3 linked regions of the Homo sapiens genome follow. The protein of the gene in region 2 interacts with the protein of the main gene of each other region in a pairwise test. Each region holds a gene or a part of one and is shown on either strand. Other genes may lie near its edges. The genes, in order: FKBP8, TMEM43 and ZCCHC12.

What was found.
Region 1: the proteins of TMEM43 (region 2) and FKBP8 interact in binary tests that used the Homo sapiens proteins (3 or more experiments, as listed by UniProt).
Region 3: the proteins of TMEM43 (region 2) and ZCCHC12 interact in binary tests that used the Homo sapiens proteins (3 or more experiments, as listed by UniProt).

Annotation. Positions count from the first base shown.
Region 1 is NC_000019.10:18,536,884-18,540,628, forward strand, and holds part of FKBP8 (peptidyl-prolyl cis-trans isomerase FKBP8), read right to left. Parts: intron 2,838-3,745; coding exon 2,668-2,837; intron 2,577-2,667; coding exon 2,488-2,576; intron 1,554-2,487; coding exon 1,333-1,553; intron 891-1,332; coding exon 718-890; intron 1-717. UniProt on the Homo sapiens protein: Constitutively inactive PPiase, which becomes active when bound to calmodulin and calcium. Seems to act as a chaperone for BCL2, targets it to the mitochondria and modulates its phosphorylation state.
Region 2 is NC_000003.12:14,135,052-14,138,796, reverse strand, and holds part of TMEM43 (transmembrane protein 43), read right to left. Parts: intron 3,640-3,745; coding exon 3,565-3,639; intron 2,991-3,564; coding exon 2,889-2,990; intron 1-2,888. UniProt on the Homo sapiens protein: May have an important role in maintaining nuclear envelope structure by organizing protein complexes at the inner nuclear membrane. Required for retaining emerin at the inner nuclear membrane.
Region 3 is NC_000023.11:118,821,756-118,825,500, forward strand, and holds the start of ZCCHC12 (zinc finger CCHC domain-containing protein 12), read left to right. Parts: upstream 1-2,068; 5' UTR 2,069-2,250; intron 2,251-2,583; 5' UTR 2,584-2,635; intron 2,636-2,833; 5' UTR 2,834-2,958; intron 2,959-3,375; 5' UTR 3,376-3,489; coding exon 3,490-3,745. UniProt on the Homo sapiens protein: Transcriptional coactivator in the bone morphogenetic protein (BMP)-signaling pathway. It positively modulates BMP signaling by interacting with SMAD1 and associating with CBP in the transcription complex.

The sequences.
Region 1 (3,745 bases), on a different chromosome or scaffold from region 2:
GAGAATGCCACGTGGGATGGAGAGAAGCAGAAAGTGAGGTGGGAGAAGTGATAGCAGGAGGGGGAAGACCAGACAACTCAAGGCCCCAAGGGCTGTGACTAGGATTCCACTTTACTCTGAGGAAAACTGGGACCCATGGAGGTTCTATGGGAGGAGGTTTCAACACTGGGCCAAGCCGGGCACGGTGGCTCAGGCCTGTAATCTCAGCACATGGGGAGACTGAGGCGGGCAGATCACTTGAGGTCAGGAGTTCGAGACCAGCCTGGCCAATATGGCTAACCACATCTCTACTAAAAATACAAAAATTAACTGGGTGTGGTGGCTCGCACCTGTAGTCCCAGCTACTTGGGAGGTTGAGGCAGGACAATCGCTTGAACCCAGGAGGAGGAGGTTGCGGTGGTGAGCTGAGATCACACCACTGCACTCCAGCCTGGGTGACAGAGTGAGACTCTGTCTCAAGAAACAAACAAACAAACAAACAAAAAACACTGGGCCAAAGGTTGGGGACCCAAGACTCGAGGATCAAATTCTGGCCTCAGCCAATGAATTGTTGTGACCAGGCCACACTCCTGCACCCGTCTGGGCCTCAGTTTCTCCACCTGCACCCCACAGAGCTCAGCTGGCTTATATACCTATGCCTTTCTCAAATGCAGGGTTGGGGACCACCCCGTATACCCCAGGCTGAGTGACCCGGCCTGGCACCCCGGTGTGGCCTACCTTGCCCTTGCGGAAGAGAGCCTTGATGTTGTCTGGCTGGTGCTCCAGCACAAGGCTGCAGGAGCGCAGGGCTGCGCGGTAGTGGTCGAGCTTCAGCTGCGAGGCCGCCAGGTTGTTCAGACACTTCACCTTCAACTGCAGGAGCTGTGCCTCCTCCTCGAACGTCATGTCCACTATTGGGAGACAGTGCCCGCCACGGCAGCCGTCACCATGCCACCAGACACCCCGGCACCCACCCCTCTGCGGAGGCTGCCTCTCTGGCCTCAGTTTCCCCAATTTTAACCCCGGACCAAGGGCCACGCTTTCCTGGGGCTCTCCTGAGGAAGCTACAAGATGGAGACTTAAGCAAGCGAGGGCCTAGCCTGTGGTACATGTGAACTGGCCCTGTCTATGGTCACCCCATCCCCATATCCACTTGCATTCTACAACACTCCACTGGTCTGGGATATACCACGAGTCTGTAACAGGCCCTAGCTTAGGGGCAGTTGGGGATCTACCCATATTCTGGGCTATTCTAGAATATTCTGAGTCTGAGGCTCTCTGGGGCTGGAAGTTTCTGGCACGGAGTGGACACCTTTGCAGGGGAGATGGTGGAGATCTGACCCAGGCGGTCACCTTTGGCGCTGGAGGTGATAGCCTTGATGGCGAGGTCGTAGGAGTTGGCGGCCAGGACGAAGTCCGCCCGCTGGTAGTGGGCGTTGCCGCACTCCCGCTTCCGGTTGGCCAGGGCCACGCGCTCCTGCCCCGTGAGCATCTCCAGGTCAGGCCCGTCCACAGCCGTCTTCAGGGTCACCTCCAGGCACAGGGCCGCGTGCGGGGGGATGTATGGGCTCCTGCTAGTTGGGTGGGAGCAGGCAGGGGCAGCACTCAGACCTGGTGACCCCTAAACCCGCTGGGCTGGCTAGGAAGGAGTGAGCTTGGCTCAAGCCCCCGATCTGTCTCCCCTCTGCCCTCCATCATTCCCTCCTCAGTAAAGTGCAGGGGAAGTGACTTGCCGCCTTGGAGCTGCGGGACTTGACGAACGAGTTCCCCTCCCTAAGCCTCGGTTTTCCTCCTTTTTATTAAGAGACAGGTTCTCACTCTGTTGCCCGGGCTGGAGTGCAGTGGTGCAATCTTGGCTCACTGCAGCCTCAAAAACGTGGGCTCAAGTGATCCTCCTGCCTGAGCCTCCTCAGTAGCTGGGACTACAGGTGTGCACCACACCCAGCTTTTTTTTTTTTTTTTTTTTTTTTTTGAGACAGTCTTGCTCTCTTGCCCAGGCTGGAGTGCAGTGGTGCAATCTCGGTTCACTGCAAGCTCCGCCTCCCGGGTTCACGCCATTTTCCTGCCTCAACCTCCAGAGTAGCTGGGACTACAGGCACCCACCACCACGCCTGGCTAATTTTTTGTATTTTTAGTAGAGACGGGGTTTCACCGTGCTAGCCAGGATGGCCTTGATCTCCTGACCTCATGATCCACCCGCCTTGGCCTCCCAAAGTGCTGGGATTACAGGCGTAAGCCACCACGCCCGGCCCACACCCAGCTAATTTTTAAATTTTTTTGTATAGAGATGCGGTCTATATTGCTTAGGCTGGTCTGGAACTCCAGGTCTCAAGCAATCCTCCTACCTCAACCTCCCAAAGTGCTGGGATTTCAGGTGTGAGCCACCTCACCCAGCCTCAGTTTCTTGTCTATAAAATGGGCAAGTAGATGGGGTGAGCCGAGGGGTACACCCACTCCACCCATCCCCCTCCTGAGACCTGCAGAGACCTAAGGGTGGCTGACTCTCACCTGCCTTGGGGGCCGTAGCAGTACTTGGAGTCAGCAGTGACCATGGCCGTCTCCCCCACGTCCATGAGTGGGACACTGAGATCCAGGGCCTGGGGTGTGTGGGGATAGCCAGCTGTCAGGCAGACTCAGACCCAGCAAGGCACGCCCCTCGCCCCTGCCCTGTCCCGCCCCAGCCCGCACCTGGATGACGTCACAGTCACCCAGAGTGAACACCAGCTCCGGCTCCTCCTGCACCCGTGTGCCATTCTCCAGCGACGTCTGCAGATGTACGGTGACCACCTGGCCCTTGACCGGGCGGCTCGAACCTGGCGGCCCTGGGACCAGCGTCTTCTTCCTCAACAGCCCGTTCCCTGCCAGGGTCCAGGGACATGCAGCCTGTCACCTGGCAGCTCAAACAGGCACCCGCTCCCCTGAGCCCCCACTCCTACCCTCAGCTCTGCCCACTAGCTGTCCAGAGGGGGCTGGCCCAACACTGGGGCACAAACCAAACTTCCAATGGCCACTCTGCCACCAGAGTGGGGAACCCCACGTGCAGGACACTGGGCAGGATGGGACAGACTTCAGGGTGACAGTGCTGGTGCTAGAGACCAGCTCAGTGAACAATGGTTGGTCTGGTTTTTTTGTTTTTTTGTTTTTTTTTTTTAAGAAAACTGAGACTTGCCGAGTTTCCATCTATTTGAGAGGCCAATGTGGGAGAATCACAAGTTCAGCCCAGCGTCTGGGCAAAATGGCAAGAACCCAGTCTCCCCACCCTCCTCAAAAAGAAAGAAAACCAAAGCTCAGAGAGGACAAACAGCCCTCAGGCTGAAATCCTTGCCCTGAGATGTTTGGGCCTCGGTTTACCCAGCCATGAAATGAGGTGCTCATGGGACCTTTGGTTAGCAGAGCCCCTGTGACACAGTGTCCCCACCACAGCACCAAGTGGGATGAATTTATAAGTTAAGCAAAGGACACACATGGTGGCTCATGCCTGTAATCCCAGAACTTTGGGAGGCTGAAATGAGAGGACTGTTTAAACCCAGGAGTTTGAGACCAGCCTGGGCAACATAGTGAGACCCCATCTCTACAAAAAATAAAAAATGACCAGGCATGGTGGCTCACACCTGTAACCCCAGCACTTTGGAAGGCTGAGGCAGGAGGATCACTTGAGGTTAGGAGTTTGAGACCAGCCTGGTCAACATGGTGAGACCCTGTCTCCACTAAAAATACAAAAATTAGGGGCCAGGTGTGCTGGCTCACACCTGTAATCTCAGCACTT
Region 2 (3,745 bases):
TTGGGGACACTGCACCCTCCTTCTCAGGCTCCATCGCTGTCGCTGCCCCTCTTCCTGTCCATTAGATGCTGCAATTCTTTAGCTGCTTCAGTCCATACTCTCTCCCCGGACATCCCATCTGCTTCCTTGGCCTCCACATGCCGTGACCCTCCAATTTAAAGCTGCAGCTCTGGCCCTCTCCCGGGCCTCACAGCCCTGCAGCTCCCACCACCTCCACCACCTCCTTGACATTTCCACTTGACATCTCAGCCTGTCTAGTGCTGACACTGGCGCCTTCTCCATCTCAGCACATGGCACACCCACCCACCCACTCACATCTATGGGAAAGACATGGCTCGCTCCTCCCCTACCACCCCATCCAGTCCAGGCCACATATTCCCGAGTCTCTTACCACTGTCTGCCCGCAGGAGCCTCACTGGCCCTGCTTCTATCACCCACTCTGTGTTCTCCACACAGTCACCTGCCAGAGCCCTGCCACACCCCCCGGACACCGACCCTGCTGCCAGTGCCCTGACCCTGCTGGCTGCTGTCCCCAGTCCAGGTCAAGTGTCCTCTCGCCTGTGTATCTGCGCGTGGGTTTGCTCTGCCTACAACGATTGCCTGCAGTCATGCCTGGCCAGCTTCCTACATATTCTTTTGAGCTTTGCTTGAACCCCATTTCTTCAGAGGGCTTTCCCTGACCCTCTGATCTGAATCGGGCCCTCTCTCAGAGTCCGTAACAACAAAAACAGGTCACATTTATCACTCACCATTTATTTGATACTGTCCTAAGTGTTTTACAAGTATTATTTAATTCTCAAATTCACTCAGTGAGGTAGGAATACTTACCTCCACTTTACAGATGATGAAACTGAGGCTCTGAGAGAATAAGTCATGTGCCCAAGGTCTCACCTCAAGCAGTTAACTAAACGCTACATTTCCAAGAGCAGGGAGCATGTCTGTGAAGTACCTGGTGTTCAATGAAAACTTGCTGAATGAATGAATAATCCTCAATGACCAAACCAGTTAGGGATGATGTGACTATTACTAATAGTACTTAAACATCTTCCCCTTCACAAATGAGGAAACAGGCTGAGAGATCAGCACCAGCTCAAGGTCCTGTAGCAGGTGGGAGGCAGTGCCAGGGCCGTCTGCAGTGTGCCTGCTTGGGCAGCTGTACTCTCCTGCCCCTGGGACTGGAATCGGGGCATCCTGACTTTTGCCCTGAGCTGCCTGCCTGGCTCTGGGCCTTTTTTCTACTTGGCAGAGACCCCAGACCTTGTGTGGGGGTGGGGGCTGGGCTGGGGGAAGACAGGGCTTTGGGGCTGCTAAGCAGCAGGAGACCCAGGGGGTAAGGAGGCCGCCTGAGCATCTGCACTGCAGGGCCTTCCTTTCTGGGGCATTACCTAAGCCATGGGCCCCATCCACTCCTCTCTGGAGGGGCGGCTGCGTGAGCTGGGCCTCAGCCCTGGGAGAGAGAGCAAGGCCTGGACTGGGCCTCCTAATTTTAGAAACTCGCTGGGGACCCTCAGCTGCTGGTGGAAGGGTGACTCATGGCCTTCTAGGCTGGGAGGTGGCAGCCCTACCCTGAGGTTGGTAACTGGGCTCCTGGGCAACAGCCTGACCACACCCTAGCCCTGGCCAGGTACCAGGAGTTGGTGAGGCCCAAGCACCACCACAAGCTGGAGGCTAATGGGACAGATGGCTGCTGAGGATCTAATAATAGGAACAAAAGGTCACAGCTAACCCCTGATGCCTGTCTGCTGCCTTGACCCTTTCTGGCCACTCTGGAATGAAAACCCCAGCAGTCCTGGTTAGGGCAGGTATAGAGTGCCCCACCAGGGATACCTGTGTTCATCAACAACAGAAAAACTAAAGACTCAATTCTTCTGCTGCAGAGAAGGATTGCCTGCCTAGAGAAGACAGGCTAACTTTTAAGGCACAGAACTGAACTAATCAGCACATCTTGGCACCCCTTCTCCTTGGGACCCGGGGTAGGCATAGCCCTCCCTATTTACAATGGGAGAGGGATACTCAGGTAGCTGAGGCCCAAAACCCTTCCCCGCCCTCCTAATGTTCTGGAAGGACACAGACTTTGGTGGAGCCCCCCCACCCACTCCCTCTCCCCGCTCTGGGCTGTGGCCACAGCACTCCGGGTGCCCCCTTAGAAGGTGAACCCTTTCGTGCCCAGACTGGGCTGTTCTTGCTGGAACTGACTGATCACTGATTCTTCTAGGGTTAACCCCTTCTCGTCAGCAAAACTCACTTGTCAGAGGCCCTGCTTGATCACTGCAGAAACGGATGTTCTACTCTGACGTCCACTGGTATCAGAGCACCTGTTCTCCTCTTTCCAACACTCGGCACGATGCATCAGTACTTACGAGTTTCTGTCACTCTCACTCCTCTACCGGACAGTCTGTGAGGCACAGTGAGTTTAGTGCCTAGCACAGTCCTGCACACTGAGGGTTCATGACAGACTCAGCATCCACAATCCAAAAACCCAAATGCTGAAGTGCTCCAAAATCCAAAACTTTCTGAATGCCAACATGACGCCACTAGTGGAAATCCCACACTTGACCCCATGTGACGGGTTGCATTGTATAAAATCACCTTCAGGCGATGTGTACAAAGTATACATGAAACATAAATAGATTCTGTGTTTAGACTTGGTTCTCATCCCCAAGAGATCTCATTATGTATATACAAATACCTGCAAATCCAAAAAAATCTGGAATCTGAAACACTCCTGGTCAAACACTTTGATGAGGCATACTCAACATTCCGCTATTTCTTCTTCTTGCCTCATTCACTGGCTATGACCCCTGGTAGTGTGATCTTATTAAATAACCACTGGAAGGAAGGAAGGACATGCTTGTTCCTCCACCGTACGAGTAGGGCACAGCACTCACCTCTGCTGAGAAGTCCCCGTGGTGCAGGAGCAGTAAGGTATCCCCAGACTTGGTGGAGAATGGGACTAGCTGGTCACCCCGCTGCCGGGCAATCACAGTGACCTGGTCAGAGGACCTGGTGTTAGAGCTGAGGGGTGACCAGCGGGAGACACGCCCACGAGAGCCATGGCCCACCCTCCCGGGACTGGGTGCCGGCTGGGGAAGTGAGCACAGAAACCCTGGGGCTTCTCTCTCTATACATCCATCTGGGATGCATCCACCTCTGCAGCTCTGGCTGAGCTGCTCCATTCAAAGCTCCAGGCATTCAAAGCTCTTGGGCAGTGCGCAGAGCAGGGGATGGGGCAGGACTGCACATAGGCCAGGAACGCAAGACCAATTATTGACAGATCAAAACGGGCTTGGGGAGAGGGTCTGTGTGTGACTGGAACACCTGTCATAAGGTGCGACTATGAGACCCCTTTTGAGCTGCCCTTCTTAACGTGGGGTCCATGGATGGCTGTGGGGACATGGGAGCTCTGAAACTGCTCAGAAGCGTGCCTGGCTGAGAGTGTGTGCGAGAGTGTGCCTTTCCCCAGGGAAAAGGGGGTCCAAGCGCTCCTGACATTGACCAAGGTGTCTGTGTCCAGGAAAGTCGTGAGGCTCTGACTTAGTGTCTGCCCCTGGGAAGCCAGGTTACCACGTGAGCTGGGCCCAGGTCAGGGTCATCGCCGCTCAGTCCAGCATAGGAAAAGGAGACACGCAAGTCTCCCACCTGGGGGTGGAAGAGAAGCAGGGAGAGTGAGGAACGGAGTAGCTGGCCCAGGCCCAGGTCCAGGATGCCTCGGCTACGCCCCTCAGGCTCTTCTCCCACCTCCACA
Region 3 (3,745 bases), on a different chromosome or scaffold from region 2:
GTGCACTTGGTCTTGACCCCCCAAAGTTCCCACAGGAGTCTCTTAACCACACTTTACATGAGAGAAGGAAGGCTTGCTTTCCCAGAACCAGAAGTAAGGGAAAATGGAGTGCTGCAGGCTGAATTATGTTCCCCCAAATTCATTGTAATCCTAACCCTCAGTACCTTAGAGTGTGACTGTATTTAAAGATAGGGCCTTTAAAGAGGTTATTAAGGTAAAAATGAGGCCCTTAGGGTGGGCCCCAATCTGACTTGTGTCCTTATAAGAAGAGGAAATTTGGACACACTGAGAGAACCCAGAGGCACATATGCACAGAGAGGATGGCCAAGCAAGAGGGCAGCCATGTGCAAGCCAAGGAGAGAAGCCTCAGGAGAAACCAACCTTGCTGGCACCTTGAAGTTGGACTTCCCAACCTTCAGAACTATGAGCAATACATTTCTGTTGTTTATAAACCACCCAGTCTATGGTATTTTGCCATAGCACCCCAAACAGACTAAAACAGCACTGTAACAAATTATCACAAACTTGGCTTAAAACAAGAGAAGTTTAATTTCTCACAGTTCTAGAAGCCAGAAGCTTAACATCTGTTTCTCTGGGCTGAATTCAAGGTGTCAGTAGGACTGTGCTTTATTCCTTGCCTCTTCCAGTTTCTGGTGGCTGCTAGCATTCCTCTGCTTATGGCCACATCACTAATCTCTGGTCATTGCCTTCTCTTCTTGGTGCACCAACTCTCCCTCTTTTATAAGGGCACTTGTGGTTTAGATTTCAGCCTGCCTGGAAAATTAAGTCAAAAAGCCTTAACTTAATCACACCTGCAAAGACCATTTTACTTTATAAGGTAACATTTACAGGTTTCAGGGATTAGGACTTGATACATTTGGGTGGCCATTATTTAGCTTCATACAGAGTCCGAAATCTTTGCATACAATTTCAGGAAGATCATGGATTCCAGGTAGGCACATCTGCTCTGGAGTTGCATTTCACCACAGATACCTGTGGACAGATATTGGAGACAGGCTCATTTACTTATTCACAAACCTTGCTACAACTCAGAACCAACCGCAGCGCCGGTTAAAAATACTAAATACAAAACCACATCACAACCGCTAGTCCTAGTAAATCTGAATCCACCAGAGTTGGGGCCCAGAGCCTACATTTCTTTTCTTTTCCTTTTTTTTTTTTTTTTTTTTTTTTTTTTTTTTTTTTTGAGAGGGAGTCTTGTTCCCTTGCCAGGCTGAAGTGCAGCGGTGCGATCTTGGTTCACTGCAACCTCCGCCTCCCAGGTTGGAGAGATTCTCTAGCCTCAGCCTCCCAAGTAGCTGGGATTACAGGCACGCGCCATCATGCCCAGCTGATTTTTTTTTTTTTTTTTGTCTTTTTAGTAGAGACGGGGTTTCAACATGTTGGCCAGGATGGTCTCGATCTCTTGACCTCGTGAGCCGCCCGCCTCGGCCTCCCAAAGTGCTGGGATTTCAGGCGTGAGCCACCATTCCCGGCCAGAAGACTGCATTTCTAACAAGCTCCCCCAAATGACTCTGATGTCTTGCCCCCATACTTGAATGGGTATTGGTTGAGAGCCTTGTTCTCCAGCTCTCCTCTCTGTTAAATGGACATACTGCTACTTCTTTCACAGTAAAAGAGGAGATGTGTGTGAAAGCCTGTTTCCGCAATGCACGTGCTAATGCTCTTCCCGCCCCTTCCCCTCTTCCCCGTCTTTTCCCTATACCAAGGTGAAGAACTTTTATTATTCACTTGATTTTGGACCCACTTCGTGTTTAATGCACCTGGCCTAAGATGCAGAGTTGAGCCCAGGGAGAAGGGACGGGTTGGGGGAGGAAGAAAGAGTCGCAAATTCCCAGGCAGATTGGCTCCATCGGTCTAATCAAGCTGCACTTGACGCTCCGCGGGCCTGCTGCGCCCCCGCCCCCTCAGGCGAAAACTCGCCTCTGCCCAAGGCTGTGCGGGGCGTCCGCCCCCGCACTTCGCTGATTGGCCGCACTAGCCCGCTCGTCACGCTCTTTTGTCTCAGCTGGCAGAGGATAAAAGCCGCCGCGGCTGCCTTAGGAACGGCGCTGCCTCGTCTCTGCTACCCCTGGTTGGGCGGCCCTGCGAAGCAGCTCCTTCGGGCAGCCCCGGGTCGCTTAGCGGCCAAGGAGGCTTCAGTTCTTTGCCGCCTGCAAGGCGGAGACCAGAAGGCGGAATCCACAGCTGGCGACGCGGGAGCATCTGCTGTCCACCAGCGGAGCACAGGTAAAGAATGGGGGTGTGATTGCCCGGCGGGGAGAGGGGTGGGGGAAGACCCACCAGTACTGGGCGGCTCCCAGCTTGGAGAATCGGTGACTGTGAGGCAGGGGTAGGAGTACTCTCGTGGCCCGGCTGCGCTGAGGGAGGAGGTGGGGTTCACCTGGATACTGCGGGCTAGGTAGGATTTGCCTGGATTTGGGGGTGGGAGGAGAGGCGAGGAGTAGCGGGGGGAGGAATCTCGAGCTGTTTGCTTCGAACATCCTTTGCATCTCCTCATCTCTTTCTGGGAGGAATATGTGGGTGGGTGTGTCCAACTCCTATTCCCTTTCTCCGTGGCAGGCCATCAAAGCCGCATCTGAACTTGAATTCTGTGCAGCTGATTGCAGAGCTGGTAGGCCGACGGCTTCCCGGGGGAAATGTAATGCTGGAGGGTGGGGGGCTGGTCTCTGGCTTATAGTCAGGAGGGGGCAGAGAGAATTTTTCGCCTGGCAACAGCGGAGGTGGTGGGTAGCAGGATGACGGGTGAAGCTGCTTCTAACCCTTCCCTTCTCTGGCCTTCTCCGCTGTGGCGCAATCTTGAAACCTCAAGGACCCGGATCTGCGACCCCCTGTGGACAGAGGTTGACCGTACCCCGGAGAGGAGCTTTCTCACGGAGGGCACTGGTTGCAGAGGCTGGAAGTGAAATAAAGACGCGCTCTTGTTTCAGAGTTCGTGTAAGAATCTGAGAAATAACAAGGGGGACGGGCGTGGGGGGCACTTTGAGAAGGGGGTGTGGTTGAGACCAGAGACCATGAGGTTAATGAGATCTTATTTTATTTCCACAAATCTGCGATCATTGTACTCTATTTGGAGAGCCCAATATCAGCTCCAGACACTGCTACACCTAGAATTTGAAGCAACAGTTACCGTCCCTCTTGGAGGACTGGTGGGAGGGATGGATGTGGCTGCAAAAAGCACCTTGCTAGCACGCAGGCATCGGGTAGCTCTGGGAGGTTGTAAGTGTCAATCTCCTACAGGATTATTTTTAGGGTAGTGGGCAAATATAAAATGTACTGCAGGATATTCAGGTAGGAAGAGAATGCAGCTGCAGCCCGCTCCCTTATTAACCAGCCCCCCTTTCTTTTTTACAGCCCCTGCTGAGATAGGAAGGCAGAGCCACCTCCTCTCCTCTCCCACCTGCAGATTAAGCTTTTCTAAAAAGCCTAGGCATCTTCTTATATTCAGATACCCTATCGTCGTCAGTCATGGCTAGCATCATTGCACGTGTCGGTAACAGCCGGCGGCTGAATGCACCCTTGCCGCCTTGGGCCCATTCCATGCTGAGGTCCCTGGGGAGAAGTCTCGGTCCTATAATGGCCAGCATGGCAGACAGAAACATGAAGTTGTTCTCGGGGAGGGTGGTGCCAGCCCAAGGGGAAGAAACCTTTGAAAACTGGCTGACCCAAGTCAATGGCGTCCTGCCAGATTGGAATATGTCTGAGGAGGAAAAGCTCAAGCGCT